Regions from separate parts of the Homo sapiens genome. Here region 2 is linked to region 1. A link means that fine-mapping ties the variant in region 1 to the plasma level of a protein whose gene starts in the linked region. Region 1 holds a variant in brackets. A gene starts in the other region. All regions are shown on their forward strands.

Region 1 (8,000 bases):
TTTTATACAAAAATCTAAACCAGTTTTAGAGGCATTTTAACAAGAAAAAATATATTCAAATTAATATGGGAAATTTGATCATATTAAATAACTAGTTCAATATTTTTATACTTGAAAAATGAAAACACAGAATTTACTCATCTCAAATTTCAAAATTTTATTTTGAAATTTCAAAGTTAAAGACAAAGGATATTAAGTCAGAAAAATGAATCACTTTTCCTAACACTAGAAATCCAAACTCTTCCTTTTTCTCTTTTTCTTTTTTTTCTTTTTTGAGGAAGACCTATTTCTTATTTTCTGAAAGTCCCAATATCACCAAAGAACAGAGAACAAGAAAGAAACACTGGTTATAATGTTTAAATCTTGACCATAGAAGGACAAAGGTCACCACTACACATCATATGTCTTTCCTGACTGGGAATTCTAGTAGAAAAAAGAAAGCCAGTAACAACTACAGCCAGTTCAGATATCTACAAGTAGATCCTATCTACTGGCTGGACACCTGTGTTATACTTAAATGACTTGCAATACTTACCTGTGCTATACAGACAAAGGAAATTGAAAAAAAAATTACCGTAAAATTGCTAGATATTTAAAACCCTTACTCAAATGGAAAAACAAGTAAAATACTTAATTTAAAACGCCACCTTTGTTTTTCAAGTACAATAAAGGAGAATCAAAGCAGTTTTGCTAACGAAACAGAACTACCACAAAAAAAAAATCACAGAAAAAAATTATTCCAAATTTAGCAAATTTGCATAGAGAATAGACAACATGTGTAGGAGACAGACATTTGAAAAAGTGTTTAAAATGAAAGCAAAGTGAACATCAAACGATTAAGGGACTTGTGATACATCCATGCCATTAATTGTGCTGAAATCAGGTAAACAATCATTAAATATCTTCTTAGGCATAAATAACATCCAGAAATCATTAGTTTCCTCCGAAAATATGCTGGATTAACAATACAGAGCCGTCATCAACAGCATACCCACACCAAGCCAGTAGGAAAAAAAAAAATCATTAGCATATTTTCTAGTTTGAAACACAAAATTATCATCAAATGATACAACAACAGTTGGAAATTTAAAATGCTATGGTCTAGTCCCAATATAATTAAATATAACAATGGGACAATTTTTTTTAGCAATCTCCACATCAAATTTCGCTTCTATGAAAAAAAAAGCATTTAGTCGCACCCACAGAGAAATTATGAGAAAAAATGTGGAGTATTACTAGACCCAATTAAGCACATTTCAACAATAAAGTAAATGTGTTTGTTAGGGGAGCAGACATCCATGTAGAAATCTCAGCTCTTAGTCAAAGTTGTCAGGGAGAAAGAATGCTTATTTAGAAAAACCTAGCACTTTGGTCTTTTGCTCTCAAAAGCTCAATTGTAAATATTTCTCACATCCTGCAAAATAAGCGAATAAAGAAATTTCAAAAGATAATTCTTTTTTGGGATAAATGGTCTCTTCAGTGATTGTTCAGTATGCAATCTCTAAAGACAAGCCTAGTTTAATGATCCTCAAAACTAATACTGTTAAAACTTGAACACACTACTATCGTATTACTTGAGGCTCATTCCCAGTACAGATATTAAATTAAAATATATGATATTATTAGAAAATGTTTGGTCAAAATATCCCCAGTTATATTGAACATATAAAGGAATTATGGTGTATTTTCAATGCCAGGCTAATTATTGAATTGAAATAAATTATATGAATAGATGTCTTTTCAGAGAAAGAACCAATTTAAAATCCAACTAACAGGTATTTGAAAGGCCAATGAAACCCTACCCTAATGGCACTTTCAAGTATATTACTTTAAAATTACGTGTATAAATGTGAAAACCTGACAACCTATTTGGTATTATTATTCTGCCATTGAGAAACTACATAAAGCCTAAGCTCTAAATTTTCAGTTATATAAAATTCAAAATATATGATTAGTCTACTTTTTTTTATAAAAAGCTAAACCAGAAACATACAAGTGTTGATCAATCTATAATATTCTGTCCTTGTTCATTAAGTAAATCCAATTAAATAGAAATTAATTTATAGGTTAGACCACTGTCTCATAATATTATACATTTACTTTCAAATATGAGTGACGCTACATAATAGCATGCTAAAACAGAAATGTATTCACATTTACTAAAATATTCAGGATATGACTAAGTTTTTTAAATGCCCCCAAAAGCCATCATAGCTTTAAAACAGAAAAAGTAAATAGTAGTTAAATCTGTTGTAAAACTTTCACACAAATATATATAAGTATATATGTTAGGGGAATTAAAAGTATTTACGTCCTAAATTTCAAAATTTCAAAACTTCTTTGGCTACAAACTAGCCTCTATATTTTAATAACAAATTATGTCAACTCTCATGATATAAAAAAGTAACATTATTATTAAAATTAAATGCTTGAACAAGAAAAAAGGTTTACAAAAATTTATTGCATCCAAATAGTTAACCATTTGCAATAATACACTATCGCTTCATAAACACCAACACTGAAAATGTATTACAATACTGCTAAAAAGACAAAGCATATAAGATTTATACACAATTTACACACAATTGTGTACAAATTTACATACAATTACAATATGCTGTCTACCAAAATACAACCTACTCAAAAATTAGGAAGTTAGAAAAATAATTCTAAGACTTAATCGTGATCTGCAAATGAATTTTTTAAGTTGCTTAGTGCATATTCAAATATGCTCAAATATATAATCTATACTAAAATAGTGCAAGAAAGTATTTGTATCCCCATCATGACTACATAACCCATGGGTATTAGATACCTCTTTGGTATAGTGAATATTAAACAAGTTAATAAATTGTATATTTTATAAAAACAAATTAAACTGAGTATAGAAAGACATGCTCAAGATAAAATTCAATTCTTCTCAAAAGTACTCAACAGGGTTGTATTTTTTAATCACAAATTCAAGGTGGAATTAAAGATACTTTCCAATAAAATACTTGCCAGTTACAGAGAGATACGATCAGGTAACTTAAAAGTTGAAAATGATATTTATATTTTGACAAGCTCTAACACACACAAAAAAATTATACCTTAACAACACTCTTATTTGGTGGTTAAATATGAAATTAAAGTAAATCATTCACAGTTAAATTAAGATATAGAATGTTTAAAACATTATTAGCCTTTGAGTAACATCTGAGGCCTCATGATGTATAGAAAATCAAATAGCAAATATAAATGAAGAAAAATTAAAGCATCTTAAAAAAGAGTAAAATTTTAAATGCTTTCAGTATCTGGCTGTGATGATATAATGTAAAATCCCTGATGAATAAATTGTATGCCCTTATCACTCCATTCTGGAACCTACCACCTATCCCATAAAATAAATGGATATACATTTTTTAATTTAAAAAAGTAGGCAAGCAGAATCTGAATATTTGTGTCCACAATTAAGCTCTATTCAAAACTGTAAAATAAAACTGTTCATTCACCTTAATAAAAACATTCTTCTGTTAATTAGCAGAATGCTGACCTTTGAAACAGAGAAACCTAACAGCATCAGCAAGATA[C/T]AAAAGAGCGAAACTAACAGCTGAACCCAGGGCATTTACTAAGTCAGTTAATTTCTTACAAAATTATGACAGAAAATTACATGTATATTTTTATGTTTTCTTAATGTTAGAACTTACTATTAGGAATAAATGAATGGTTAATGTAGTGCTCTTTAATGAAATCATCTCAAATCTATCATGGATTTTTTGGTACTAGAATTACAGAAAATTTCGCCCAACTTTTTCTTCTTAAATATAGTAAATTTTTGACAAAAAGTAAAGTCACTTGCCCATGATGACACAGACAGTTGTTAAAAATGTTAGAAATCAGATACCCTTATGCCCATTATTCCAAAATTCCATGCACTATACCATGCTGTCTTCTTGTTGAAGATTATGAGCATGGGGTATGCTATTGTCCAGGAAGTGTTTAAAAGTTATGTTGAAACATTATAGCTATAGTCTTTAATACTGTTGTTTTCCTTATTCTTCACTACACTGATAGTGTCTTTTTTTTTCTTCACCCAGCCACCCCTTACTTAAGTATATCTGTATAGGCTACACTGTTGACATTTAAACCTATTAAGTCTTATTAAAGTAAATGCTCTCATACCGTGTATTTCTATTTTATTTGAAAACTGGTTAAACTCTAACTCAGTCTAGATACCTTGTAAACTGACACTTATTTTGAAAGCAATTTCTTAATCTTAAATATCTGAGTAATCTCTCTTTTTGTTTCTTCTCAACAGGCCTTAATAAATAGGACCACCATATTGGATGGCAATTAACAATAGTCAAATATAGAGGAGATGTCTGTTGTTACCAATTTACTGAGATATGATTTACTTTCATCAATAATCTGTCAAAATAAATTATTCCAAAAAAATTACTGCAGTTTACATAGCAACATAAAATTGACAGTTCTGTATTTATAACACACCCTATGCTAGGTGTGTAAATAATGATATTACTTTCTCTTAAGGTTTCTGAGTTTTAGCCCATTTTCTGGCCTTTCTTTCAAACTTGCAGGAAGACTGTGAGCGAGTCTTTCTAAGGCAGGCACTCCTGGTTTTTACAACCTGCTTGCTGTTCCGTTGCTGCTGTTTGTGCCCATGCCTAGGGTGTGTTATAATCTTTTTAAAGTCCTTACAGATGGAATCATACCTATTCTCAGGATCATTGTCGTCATCATCATCATCCACTGTGACAGGCACTGATTTAGATAAGGCTTCATCTCCTTGAGGGAAAAAAGTGTACTTAAAATTAGCTTTAAATAAGCTATATAATTAAAACCATGTAAAATAAAACTGAAAGCCAAAAACTTTAAAGCAAACTAAGTGGGGTCTAAACTCTGGACTCCAAAATATGAGTAAAAAGCATTCTTATAGAAAACATAACAGGTTATTTGTGAAGTGCCAGCAGTAAAATGATAAATAGCTGGACCTTATATATTTCAGAGTTCCTTCCCAGGGCACAAGGCTTTTAAAGTCCACCCTTCTCAGTAACAATTCTGTATCAACAGCCATCATATTAGCATAAGTTTCTTGCCACAATAACCTTCGTACTGGTCCATTTTAATTTTGACGTTAACTGGTGCTGTATCTTCGAGGAATAGCAAAAACAGTATTAATATTTTGGTAGTAGCAAGTAATTTTAAAATGCAGTTGAATGTGTATGGTATTTGTGACCTGAGTTACCCAGAGATACAGTTCAGTACAGTAAAACTTATTTTCTTATAAAAAGCTGCATTTCTATATTTTGATTAAAAATCTAAAGAGGGCCGGGTGAGGTGGCGCACGCCTGTAATCCCAGCACTTTGGGAAGCCAAGGCAAGCGGATCACCTGAGGTCAGGAGTTCCAGACCAGCCTGGCCAACATGGCAAAATCCCGTCTCTACTAAAAACACAAAAATTAACCAGCCATGGTGGTGTGTGCCTGTAATCCCAGCTACTAGGGAGGCTGAGGCAGGAGAATCACTTGAACCTGGGAGGCGGAGGTTTCAGTAAGCCAAGATCGCACCACGGCACTCCAGCCTGGGTAACAACTCTCTCAAAAAAAAAAAAAAAATCTAAAGAGGTTAAGATTTGGGCATTTCATTCTATATAAATTTTACTTCAAAAGAAAAACTGAAATATTAAACTGTAGGTTAATACTATGCATGCTTAAGTGTTTCAGGAGAAGTATGCTGATGTCTACCGTTTAATCTGAAATGCATCAAAGATTTTAAGGGTATTATACTAAGTGAAAAAAGCCAATCTCAAAAGGTTATATACTTCATGATTCCATTTCAAAATAGCAAAATTACAGTGATAAAGAACAGATTACTAGTTGCCAGATGTCAGGAATGGAGGTAAGGACAGCAGTATCACAAGGGAGCCTTGTGATAATGGAACTGGTTTGATATATCGGTTGTGGTGGTGATTATACAAAGATACACACGTGGTACAACTGCACTGAACTATACTTATACACACACAAATGAGTGCATGTGAAACTGGTGAAATCTGAATAAATCTTCAGTTTTCTGGTTTTGACACTGTACTAGAGTTACAAGATATTACCCTTGAGGGAAACTAAGTAAAGGTTATCTGAGACCTCCCTGTATTTTTTTTTTTTTTTACAAATTTCTGTGGATTTATAATTATGCAAAATAAAAAGCTAAAAAGGCAAAAAAAAGATATACTGATGGATAGACAGAAGGATATATAGATATGTTATCAAGAAAATACAGTATAATATTAATGGTAGATGCTTTGGTGTATACTTAAATGTTTTTCACAATAAAATGTTGAAGGGAAATGGAGGAAAAAATCTATAAAGGAAACAGACACCTACAGGCTCAGGATAGAAATACACTAAATAAGGCCAGGCGTGGTGGCTCAAGCTTGTAATGCCAGCATTTTGAGAGGCTGAGGCAGGCGGATCACTTGAGGTCAGGAGCTCGAGGCCAGCCTGGCCAACATGGAGAAACCCTGTCTCTACTGAAAATACAAAAATTAGCCAATGTGGTGGCATGCACCTGTAATCTCAGCTACCCAGGAGCCTGAGGCATGAGAATCGCTTGAACCCGGAAGGCAGAGGTTGCAGTGAGCAGGGATTGCAGTGAGCCGAGATTGCACCACTGCACTCCAGCCTGGGTGGCAGAGTGAGACTTCAACTCAAAAAAAAAAAAAAGAGACAGACAGAGAGAGAGAAGAGATTTCATAATATCCCAGCAAACTCACAATAAATATCTCATTCAAACAGACCAATCTTCAAATGAAATATAATTAGTAACAGTACTGTCACTCCCTCTTTACTACACCTTTCAAAATTTGACCTATCCTTTGAAGTTCAAATGCCAACTATTCTTCTAAATATTTCCCCAAATATTTAAGTAGTTCACTTGCCATTTATTGTGTAGCCCCATTATAGTTTGTTGTGTTTGTTGCTGTTTCTGTTTTGAGACGGAGTCTCGCTCTGTCGCCCAGGCTCAAGTGCAGTGGCGCGATCGTGGCTCACTGCAATCTCCATCTCCTGGGTTCAAGCGATTCTCCTGCCTCAGCCTCCCAAGTAGCTGGGATTACAGGTGTGCGCCACTACACCTGGCTAATTTTTTTGTATTTTTAGTAGAGATGGGGTTTCACCATGTTGGCCAGGCTGGTTTTGAACTACTGACCTCAGATAATCCACCCACCTTGGCCTCCCAAAGTGCTGGGATTACAGGCCCCATTCTAGTTTTATATCTTTCTTCTGTTACTTTTTTTAATGATTTCTCTATGTCTGTCTTGCATTAAACTGCAATCTCCTAGGACCATGTTCTTCATCTTGGTTATTCATGCCATTACCAAGCCCCAATTTCTAGGAAAATACTGTAGCTGTAATATGATACCCAAATACTGCGAATAAACTGGAATCCTCTAAACTCAATAGGGGGCAGGGTTTTTCTTTTAACCTTCTAAAACTGTGACCTAAAATTAAGTTAGACAGAGGAGTACATAAATTCAGCATGCTTACATAAGCATGTAAGTAAATTCTGAAGGAATATCATAACACTGGCTCACACGCAAACTTATCTTTAAAAACAGAACTTTTTACAGCGCTTATTTTCAAGGCACTCATATTCTATTCTACTTGTTTCTATTGACAAGGCCCAATTTTTCACAGGTTAAATTCCCTAACAAATTTATCTTCTTTCTTATTTCATCCCAAATAATCAGCTTAGCCCCCAAAAATATCCAGGGTAAAGAAAATCTCAACAAGGCTTATTTCACCAAGCAGTTGAAGGATTGGAATTTGCTGAAGTGACGAATTCTCAAAGTTTCTCTTGATACACACCTGAGAAAAAGTTTACTCCCCATCAGCCTATTTGTCCTTCAGATCAAAGTTAAATAAATCAAAATGGAACACAGTGATCTAGATCAGTGCTGAGATAAGTAATTATCAAGAGATGCATCAATTGAGTATTTGCCA
Region 2 (8,580 bases), not on the chromosome of region 1:
CCTAGTTCTTGGCCAGAGCCCTAGTGACTGTCTTGTGTGCATGGGGGGGCCAGCCGTTGCAGGAAGATGGGTCAAGAGTCTTCATCTGATGAGGGCCAGGGACTTTCCAACTCCCTCAACCCTTCCCCCAGGCTCTTTTCCCACCCTCACATTGAGCCCTCTTCACTCTGATAGTTGGGCCCCCTAGGACTTTTATTCTGAAAGAGCCAAGGCCCCTGGAGGTGGAGAGGAGGCCAGAGGCTGGAGCTGGCCTTGACCCTGAGCCAGCTCCACCCTTCTGGGCTGTTTTCCAAGGCAGCAACTCTGGGACCCTTGCTGTCCTCAGCTCTCCTCTTTATCTCTGGTCTCCAGCCTTGCTGGCCTTTGAGCAGAGGGTCCCTATAGCCAGGACTGCTGGGCTTCTCCCTCCTATGCCTTCACACCCCTGTATTACTGTCTTTTATTCCTTGACCTCACATCCTCCGTCTACTTCCTTTTTCAGCTTTTTCTGGCTTTCTTGCTGCTTGCCCTTCCCAAAGCAGACACGGAGGACAGGTCACCATTTAGAAGCTCCCCGCCTCCCCAAGCACTGGACAAAGGTCTTACCCCATTCCATCCCTCATTCCCAACACATAGGATGGAAGTATCAAATGGCCAGATGCCTTCAGATGTCAGAACCGTGGAGTCCGTTGAACCCTGTGTGTGGGGGGCTGTGTCTTGGGCCTGGTTTTGTTGAGCACATGAGACTTTCTCAAGGATAAGGACAAAGAAATGGACAAAAAGACTCTGCCAGTAGCCCCTGTTTAAACTCTTGAACCCCAGTCACAGTTTTCCAGAAGTCCATCAGGATAGAATTTTCACTAATCGCCAAATGCCCAAAGCTTAGTTCTTTCTTAGAAGGAAAAGAAGAGGTCAAATGGACAGGAGAGAGCGGAGATTGGTTGTTCTCAGGGGCTCCTTCCCTTTGCCTGCTTCTTTCATTTGGGACGCCAGACCTTGACCTGGAAGTGAGGTCACTATTGGGCAGTGGAGTGTGAGAAAGGACTTTGGCCTGGGGGCTGCAAGTTACAGATTAACACGGGGAGGGGTGAGGAGGGACCCAGAGGGAGGAAAGGTGGCCAGAGGAAGGGACAGCTGACCTGGCACAATCTGGGCTTGAAGGGGGCACAACAAGAGCGTCTGTGAGCTGGTGCTGTCTGGAGGGATCTTGGCTCCTCTCCGGCTATCTGACCTTCCTGAAGACCTGCTCGCACACTGCATCCCTTGCAGTCAGTTCCTGGGGAGAGAGGGGAAGTGAGGGGGAGAGAGAAAGAGGGCGTTTGCCAGCCAGAGCCCCTTTCTCAAGGTCCTTGACCTCCATTTACTCCTTCCGGATACAGCAGCTTGAGTGTTTGATGTATGGGCAATTGTATCATTATTCCACATCCTCAACTTTCCACCCCTCAGGAAGGAAGGTGGCTGGGTCAGGGGATGTGAGTGGCTGAAGCCTCCATCTCGCCAGTGATGATTTATGGGCATTCATCCGACTCGTAGCCAGGGCCCACCTTGGCCACTCTGTTTCTTCCTCTCCCCACTCCTCCCAGTGCTTTTGCTTTCCCTCCCTGGTCAATTCCTTGGATAGGGATTGGGGCTGGGCTGGGGGAAGAGTGGTGGACCTATCTGGTTTGGACAAGGGGATGCCTTATAGCTGGAGGCCCTTCTCCCAGACACCCAGCCCCCACCCCATTTACCAGATACAGCATCTCTCCCTCCAGCCAGTGTCTCCAGCCCCGGTTGGGGACCTCCCCTTTCTGCACACACACCAGGTGCTCCTCCTCCCAGGTTACTATGGTCTATAGGGGAAAGAGGGAGTAAAGAAAGATTAGGAGGCAGGACACTCAAAATGCTTCCCATCTCACTCTGAATGGGCTCCCCCTTTTACTCCACAGCAGATACTGTCTGCTGCAGCCCCTCCACTGAGCGAGGGAGCTGCTCTGATTCAGCAGGACTCCCTTTCCACCCTACTCTTTGTTTTTTGTGTTTTTTTGAGACAAGTTCTTGCTCTGTCACCCAGGCTGGAGTGCAGTGGCAGGATCTCGGCTCACTGCAACCTCTGCCTCCTGGGTTCAAGTGAATCTCATGCCTCAGCTACCAGAGTAGCTGGGATTACAGGCGTGCACCAACATACCGGGTTAATTTTTGTATTTTTAGTAGAGACAGGGTTTCTCCATGTTGGCCAGGCTGGACTTAAACTCCTGAGCTCAAGTGATCCGCCCGCCACCGCTTCCTAAAGTGCTGTGACTATAGGCATGAACCATCACACCCAGCTTTCCACTCCTAAAGGTCACCGAGGGGGGCCCAAAGTTGTCTACAGTGACCTTTAGGGGAGAGCAGGGGTGGTAGCAGGATAAGTAGAGGTGAAATTGGGGAGGGCATTTATGAAGAATGGAGACTTTTTCCTCTGGATACTTCTGGCTGACCTAGAGGGACTTTTGAGAAAAAAGAGAGATTGGTTGGGAATCCTACCAGGTAATCTCATTTCTCCTCTTTCTCGGTTTCAAGAACAGCTGAAGTATCCTTAGAAATAAAGGGTCAGCCCCTCTGGGCCTGAGCATTCCAATCAACCTTTATTGAGTTCTCCTTTAGGATAGGCCCCAAACAAGGAGCTCAGAGTCTTGAAGAGATAGAGGATCAGTAAATAGGTAACTGTGACACCAGGCAAGAGTGAGGGATGGCAGTGGGGCGGGCAGAGTGAAATCTTTAAGGAAGTTGGGAGTTAATTAGATTGGAGAGAATGGGAAATTTCTAGCAAGGAAAGAAACAGCTAGAAATAGCGGTAAAAGAGAAAGGCAATTAGTTCTGAAGGGCTCTAACCTAGAGTATATGTGGTGGAGGCAATTGAAGAGTTGATTCACAGAGACCCTTGTATGCTGAGTTAAGTGTAACAGATGATGTAATGTAATAGATCATCACTGAAAGGGTGTAAGTCAGAGAGTGACATGATCACATTTATGTTTTAAGTAGACCCTGTGGCTACAGCATGCAGATTAGAGGAGGGTTAAGCGTGAGAACCAGCTGGGTGCAGTGGCTTAGGCCCGTAATCTCAGCATTTGGGAGGCTGAGGCGGGAGAATCACTTGAAGTCAAGAGTTTGAGACCAGCCTGGGCAACACAGTGAGACCCCACCTCTACCAAAAAAAAAAAAACACAAAAACACAAAAAAGCAATTTCAGGCACCAGGAAATGAAGGCCTGAATTAGGGTGGTGATAGAGAAAGGTTAGGAGGGAACACAGGAGAGCCATTTAGAAGAGTGATGCTCAACAGAAATAAAATGGGTCAGGAGCCATATTAGAAAAGTAAAGAGAAATAGGGGAAATTAATTTAAATAATATATTTTAGTTAACCAAAAATATTCAAAATATTATTATTTCGGCATGCAGCCAATATAAACATTTCCGAAATGCTTCTTTTTATTTGGCATTGTCTGAAAGTCCACTTACAGCATCTAGATTTGGACTAGTTATATTTCAAGTATTCAACGGCCATCTGAAGTTAGCAGCTGCTATACTGGGTAATGCAGAAAAGCTACAAAGATTTCTTGGCCGATTAGATGTGGTGGTGGTGGTGGTGGTGGTGTGTGTGTGTGTGTGTGTGTGTGTGTGTGTGTGTGTGTGTGTGTGTGCTGGGAGCCTAGAGGTAAGGAAACAAGAGATATTGACCATGACTCCCAGGTCTCTGGCCTGGCTGGTTATTGCCATTAGTGGAGAGAGTAGATATAAAAGTGGGGTAGGTTTGGATAGGAAGACAGTGAATTTGAATTTGACCTTGGCATTCAAATGGAAATTGGTTCCAGGACCCCCACCTCACTAAATCTGCTGAATAAAATGGCTTAGTATCTGTAGAGAAACTACATACATCCCCCTGTGTACTTTATTATTATCATTTTGATACAGAGTCTTGCTCTGTCACCCAGACTAGAATGCAATGGCATGATCTTGGCTCACTGCAACCTCTGGCTCCCGGGTTCAAGTAATTCTCCTGCCTCAGCCTCCCAAGTAGCTGGGATTACAGGCATGCGCCACCATGCCCGGCTAATTTTTGTACTTTTGTATTTTTTTTTTTTTTTTTTTTTGAGATAGAATTTCGCTCTTGTTGCCCAGGCTGGAGTGCAGTGGTGCGATCTTGGCTCACTGCAACCTCTGCCTCCCAGGTTCAAGTGATTCTTCTGCCTCAGCCTCCTGAGTAGCTGGGATTACAGGCATGCGCCACCATGCCTGCCTAATTTTTTGTATTTTTAGTAGAGATGGGGTTTCTCCATGTTGGTCAGGCTGGTCTCGAACTCTTGACCTCAGGTGATCCGCCCGCCTTGGCCTCCCAAAGTACTGGGATTACAGGTGTGAGCCACTGCACCTGGCCTAATTTATGTATTTTTAGTAGAGATGAGGTTTCACCATGTTGGCCAGGCTGGTCTTGAACTCCTGGCCTCAAGTGATCTGCCTGCCTCAGCCTCCCAAAGTCTTGGGATTATGGGTGTGAGCCACCACGCCCAGCCTTTTCCCATATGCTTTAAATCATCTCTAGATTACTTATAATACCTAATGCAATGTACATGCTCTGTAAATAGTTGCTATACTGTATTGTTTTTTATTTGTATCATTTTGTATTGTTATTTTTTATTTTTATTTTTCCCAAATATTTTTCCATTTGCAGTTTGCTGAAGCTGTGGATGCAGAACCCATGAATATGGAGGGCCAACTGTATTTTGTAGGCAGTTGAAAACATTGCCCTGGAGCTCAGGAGATGGCTCTGGCTGGAGAATTCATGCCAAGGGCAGCCTATAGATGGAAGCAGAAGGCATGGGTGTAGATGATTTAGCCTATGGATAGTGGGCAGACAAAAGGGAGAAGACATTAAGAACAAAACTCTGCGGAGAAAACTCCAGTTTAAAGGATTAATAGGAGGACTAGGATCTGCAAAGGAGGCTAAGAAGGAATATGTAAGAAGTAGAAAGAAATGCAGGAGAGTGAAGTTATTGATGCTAAAGTAAAAGGGACTCTGGGTGACCAACAGTGTCACAGGCTGGAGGGTGGGCAAATGTTTGCTCTTCGGTCTGGGTTGGCCTGTTCTTTGCCCTTTGGGCTGGTGATAAGAGGGGGCAGGGAAGAAGTGGGAGAGAGACAGGGAGCACCAGGACCTGTTAGTTCTGGAGACTGGTATCCTGGGGACTGCATTCCCTGCTGTGGTGACCATTCCCCTCCTCCCCGCTGCTCTGGCTGGGGAAGGTCACTTTGTTTTGCCCCATGTTGTTAGGAGTCTCCTGTGATGCCTCCTTCCGGCCACCGCCCAGCCAGGGGAAATGTACCTGGCATTTTCGTCCGTCCACGCTCCTGAGGTCCTCCTCAAACTCCACTCCCACATCAAACTGCACAGTGTAGTTTCGGAAGGTGCTGAGCGTCCTCACCGTCATGTGGTTGCCCTGGTGTTCGATCTCCTTGTCCGGCTTCAGCAGCAGCGCGATCTTCCGCACAGCCAAGCTGATGTCTGTGGGGGCTGCCTGTTAGTAGGGGTGCTGCTAGCCAGCCAGGAGCTCCTCTGCCTGCAGCAGCCCCTCAGGGCTGTGAGTTTCCCTTCTTTGGGTCTGGGACTGTGGATTCACCCCCTCCTACCAATGCCTGGTTAGAAATGGATCCCAGGTCTGGTGCCAGCCGCCTGAGCCTTTCCACAGTGTCCAACCCCGGGCATTCCCTCTTCTCCATGGGACCAAGAAGCAGGAAGGAAGAGGGGAGAAAGGGAGTGACAGGGGTCTGGGAGGGCGAGGCCATTACTTAGGGCTTGCAGGTAGTCCTCCATGTTCTTCTGCGAGACAAAGCGGTAGTAGCCAGTGAGGTTGGGAGGCATTGTGTGGATGAAGGTTTCAGGAGAATGCAGGAGACAGGGTGAGGAAGGAGGGGGTGTTGTCTGGCAGGTGAGGCTGAGAGATTCCAGCCAGCTCCACACACAGAGACAGGATGTGTAATGGCCGGGTTACCAGGGCTTTTTATAAGGCTGGGGCCCTGTTGCAATAAGAGTCCCTACCAGACTTCTTCCCTCCCCGCATGGTGAGTTTGGGGGTGGTGTCTCCAGCCTGAAGGAGGGGCAGGGATTTGGCAAAGTTGCGCCTGACCTTGGCTTTTCCTGAGGAAGGAACCTGGAGCAGGATCCTTCCTGAGGAAGGAACCTGGAGCAGGATCTGGGGCTGTCAGTCATCCAAAACTCAGCCATCCAAAGGTCAGTGTTGGCCTCCACCTCATTTCTGGCAGGCTTGGGAACCGTCCCAGGGCCTGAGGGGCAGTCTTTCCTGGGAGACACCTGAGGCTGGTCTGGCTGTGTGAGGTGGAGATGAGTTCCAACAATATCCTGAGATCCTGGGACTGAGTGATGTTGGAAGATGTGAGGGGAGGGGGTGAGGATGGCCAGCTGCCACCATGAAGAGCACCCTGTAGGCCTGGCTCTCAGAGCTCCCTCAGGTAGTGTGCTCAACTGGGACCCCAAAGTGGCATTCCAGACTCTTGGTCCTAAAGAGCCATTAGGAGGGAGGTGGAGCCCGAGGGGTGCTGAGTTCAAAGTCCGGAACAGACAGCCTGAGAGGAGTTTGTTGGCTATTCTGGAGAATTTTATTCTTTTTGGCTTGGGACCCAGGGGGTTTTCTCTCCCTCTGAGTCATCGATGAGACCGTAACCCCCAGTCCCCAGCCCTAGGACAGCCCATGCTTTCCAGATGTATTTCTGTGAAGGTGGGGTGGAGGCGCCTAAATAATATTGTGCCCCGCCCCCAGCTGCCCAATTCTCTCTCGAACCTGCCATCGTCCCGGGCTTCAGAATCCACTGGGCTTGGTTCATCATGGTTTAAGGTGAAATTCGGGGCGAAGGAGGCAGGACAGGTAGGCAGGAGGAGGCGGCCGGTCCCGACAGGTGCGTGCGCGAGGGGTGCACGACGTCCTGCCCCTCCTTGGGTCCCAGAGCCTCGATACCGCCCTGCGGACCGCCCTGTGGCTTCCTCGCAGCCCTGGGCTACAAATGCCAGGATTTCTCAGGCTCAGACTGAGGGTTTTACTTCACCCTTCCCAGAGGGCACGCAGCACGGATCTGTGGATGGAAGGGGCTGTGGAAACAGGTTATGGCAGAGTTGGGGGGCGGGGTGACGCGGTGCCACCCCTCCTGGCCGCCCTCAGGTCCCGCTGACGTCTCTCTTCCCCACCCCCTGGCTTCTGGCTTCTTTCTCCCCACGTCCCTCTTCTTTCCCACCCCCTCCGTGGCTCTCCAGCTTCCTCCCCAGCCCCCGCAGTTCCTCGGCTCCCCCAAAATTGCAGCCAGGGGAAGGAGCCTTGAAACTCTCCAGCCCCGACGCCCCAGTCTCATTGGCTCCCTCCCCCGCTGCAGCACCTGGTCCCCCCCCCTCCCAGTCACCTGATTGGCCGGCGGCCCCATCAATCGTTGCCCGGCTGTGCTGACGTCATCCTGCAGTAGCGGGGTTGGGGTGGGAGTGAGAGAGTGAGGACGCTGGGCTGGGGGAAACGGGAAGCCGCTGCAAGTCCACCGCCTCAGCTACCCAGATTGGGATCTGCCCAGGCCCGCTTTATGGACTAGTGTGGGCGGCAGGCTCCTTTCCGTCCCTGCCCTGCTGTACCCCGCTCCTTGGAGACCCCCTGTATCCCTCCCGCAAGGTGGAATCCGCAGGCTGGAGGCTCCCAGGGGAGGCAAACGCCTGGCCCTGCCCTGCCCCACGCCGCACCATGACCCTCCTGCTGCTGCCCCTTCTGCTGGCCTCTCTGCTCGCGTCCTGCTCCTGTAACAAAGGTGAGTGAGGTGGGGGTGGGGGTACCGAAAGAGGGGCGTCGGGCAGCGCCGTGCGGGGTGGGGGTGGGAAGGAGGTGTCGAGGCTCCCTGGCACCTGACAGGTGTCTGGCCCTCTTCTGATCACCCTCCTTCCCATCCGTTCTCAGACCTGCTCCGTCTCCTCTCTTTCTCTTCCCCCAGCTACATCTTCCTTTCTGGTCCATCTCTACCCATGCGTTTCTCTTGCTGGTCATCTTGCTCCCATTTGGTCTCCATTCCCGTCCTGGGGTCTCTATTCTCCCCTTCCCCTAATTTCTACACGCTGGTGGCTACCTCGGGTCTGGGAAGGACTGCCCCCGAGCCGGTGATAGGCCTCTCCCCGCGGCTCTCCCTTTCACTGGCGCATGCTAAGGGTGTGTGGCAGATCCATCTGCTTCGCCTCCATCCCATCCTGGGGAGAAAGTATTTGCTGCAGTTCAGCAATTCGGAGCACGTATGTTTTTTGCGTGTGCCTCTGCATTCAGACCCTTTTGCCTGCATCAGCTGGGCTGTGGGTTACCAGAGCTGCCCTCTCTGGCAGACAGCGGATACATTCAGCTGGGCGGGGCTGTCGGACAGACGGAGAGGGAGGACGGGAGGGAGGGCTTGCGGGCAGAGGGCTCAGGTAGGTGGAAACGGATGGAGACTGGCAGGAAAGGGCAGAAGTGGGTGTGTGGGGGGCGCTAAATGAGTATGAGAGGGAAAGCTGAGAAGGAGAAGACCGGAGATGAGGCGTGGGAGGGGGTAAGGAGGGGATGGAAAAGGGTAA

Direction of the effects. Positions count from the first base shown, and alleles are read on the strand shown. Strength reflects both the effect of a copy and how common the allele is.
For the plasma level of the protein whose gene starts at base 7,452 in region 2, C is the high allele of the variant in region 1 and T is the other (strong association).

What was found. PIP is the chance, under the fine-mapping model, that this variant and not a neighbour inherited with it causes the effect. The UK Biobank Pharma Proteomics Project read protein levels with antibody pairs (Olink). The fine-mapping took linkage between variants from a reference panel, not from the people measured, so its PIPs are less certain.
Region 2: it holds the start of CLSTN3, and the variant in region 1 is fine-mapped to the plasma level of the CLSTN3 protein (UK Biobank, PIP above 0.99).

Annotation. Positions count from the first base shown.
Region 1 is chrX:77,671,514-77,679,513 of GRCh38, forward strand. ATRX (ATRX chromatin remodeler) reads right to left here. Exons shown (of 35, transcript NM_000489.6): 10 at 4,713-4,785. Among named protein-coding and RNA genes, the nearest start is that of ATRX, 110 kb to the right of the region's middle. The variant C/T (reference allele first, on the strand shown) is at 3,570.
Region 2 is chr12:7,122,920-7,131,499 of GRCh38, forward strand. It overlaps CLSTN3 (calsyntenin 3), which reads left to right and starts at 7,452. Exons shown (of 18, transcript NM_014718.4): 1 at 7,452-7,793. The coding sequence starts at 7,730. It overlaps RBP5 (retinol binding protein 5), which reads right to left and starts at 5,970. Exons shown (of 4, transcript NM_031491.4): 1 at 5,784-5,970; 2 at 5,321-5,499; 3 at 1,710-1,811; 4 at 767-1,255. The coding sequence starts at 5,856. The coding sequence ends at 1,202. RefSeq lists silencers at 7,209-7,308, 8,399-8,468 and an enhancer at 7,750-8,251.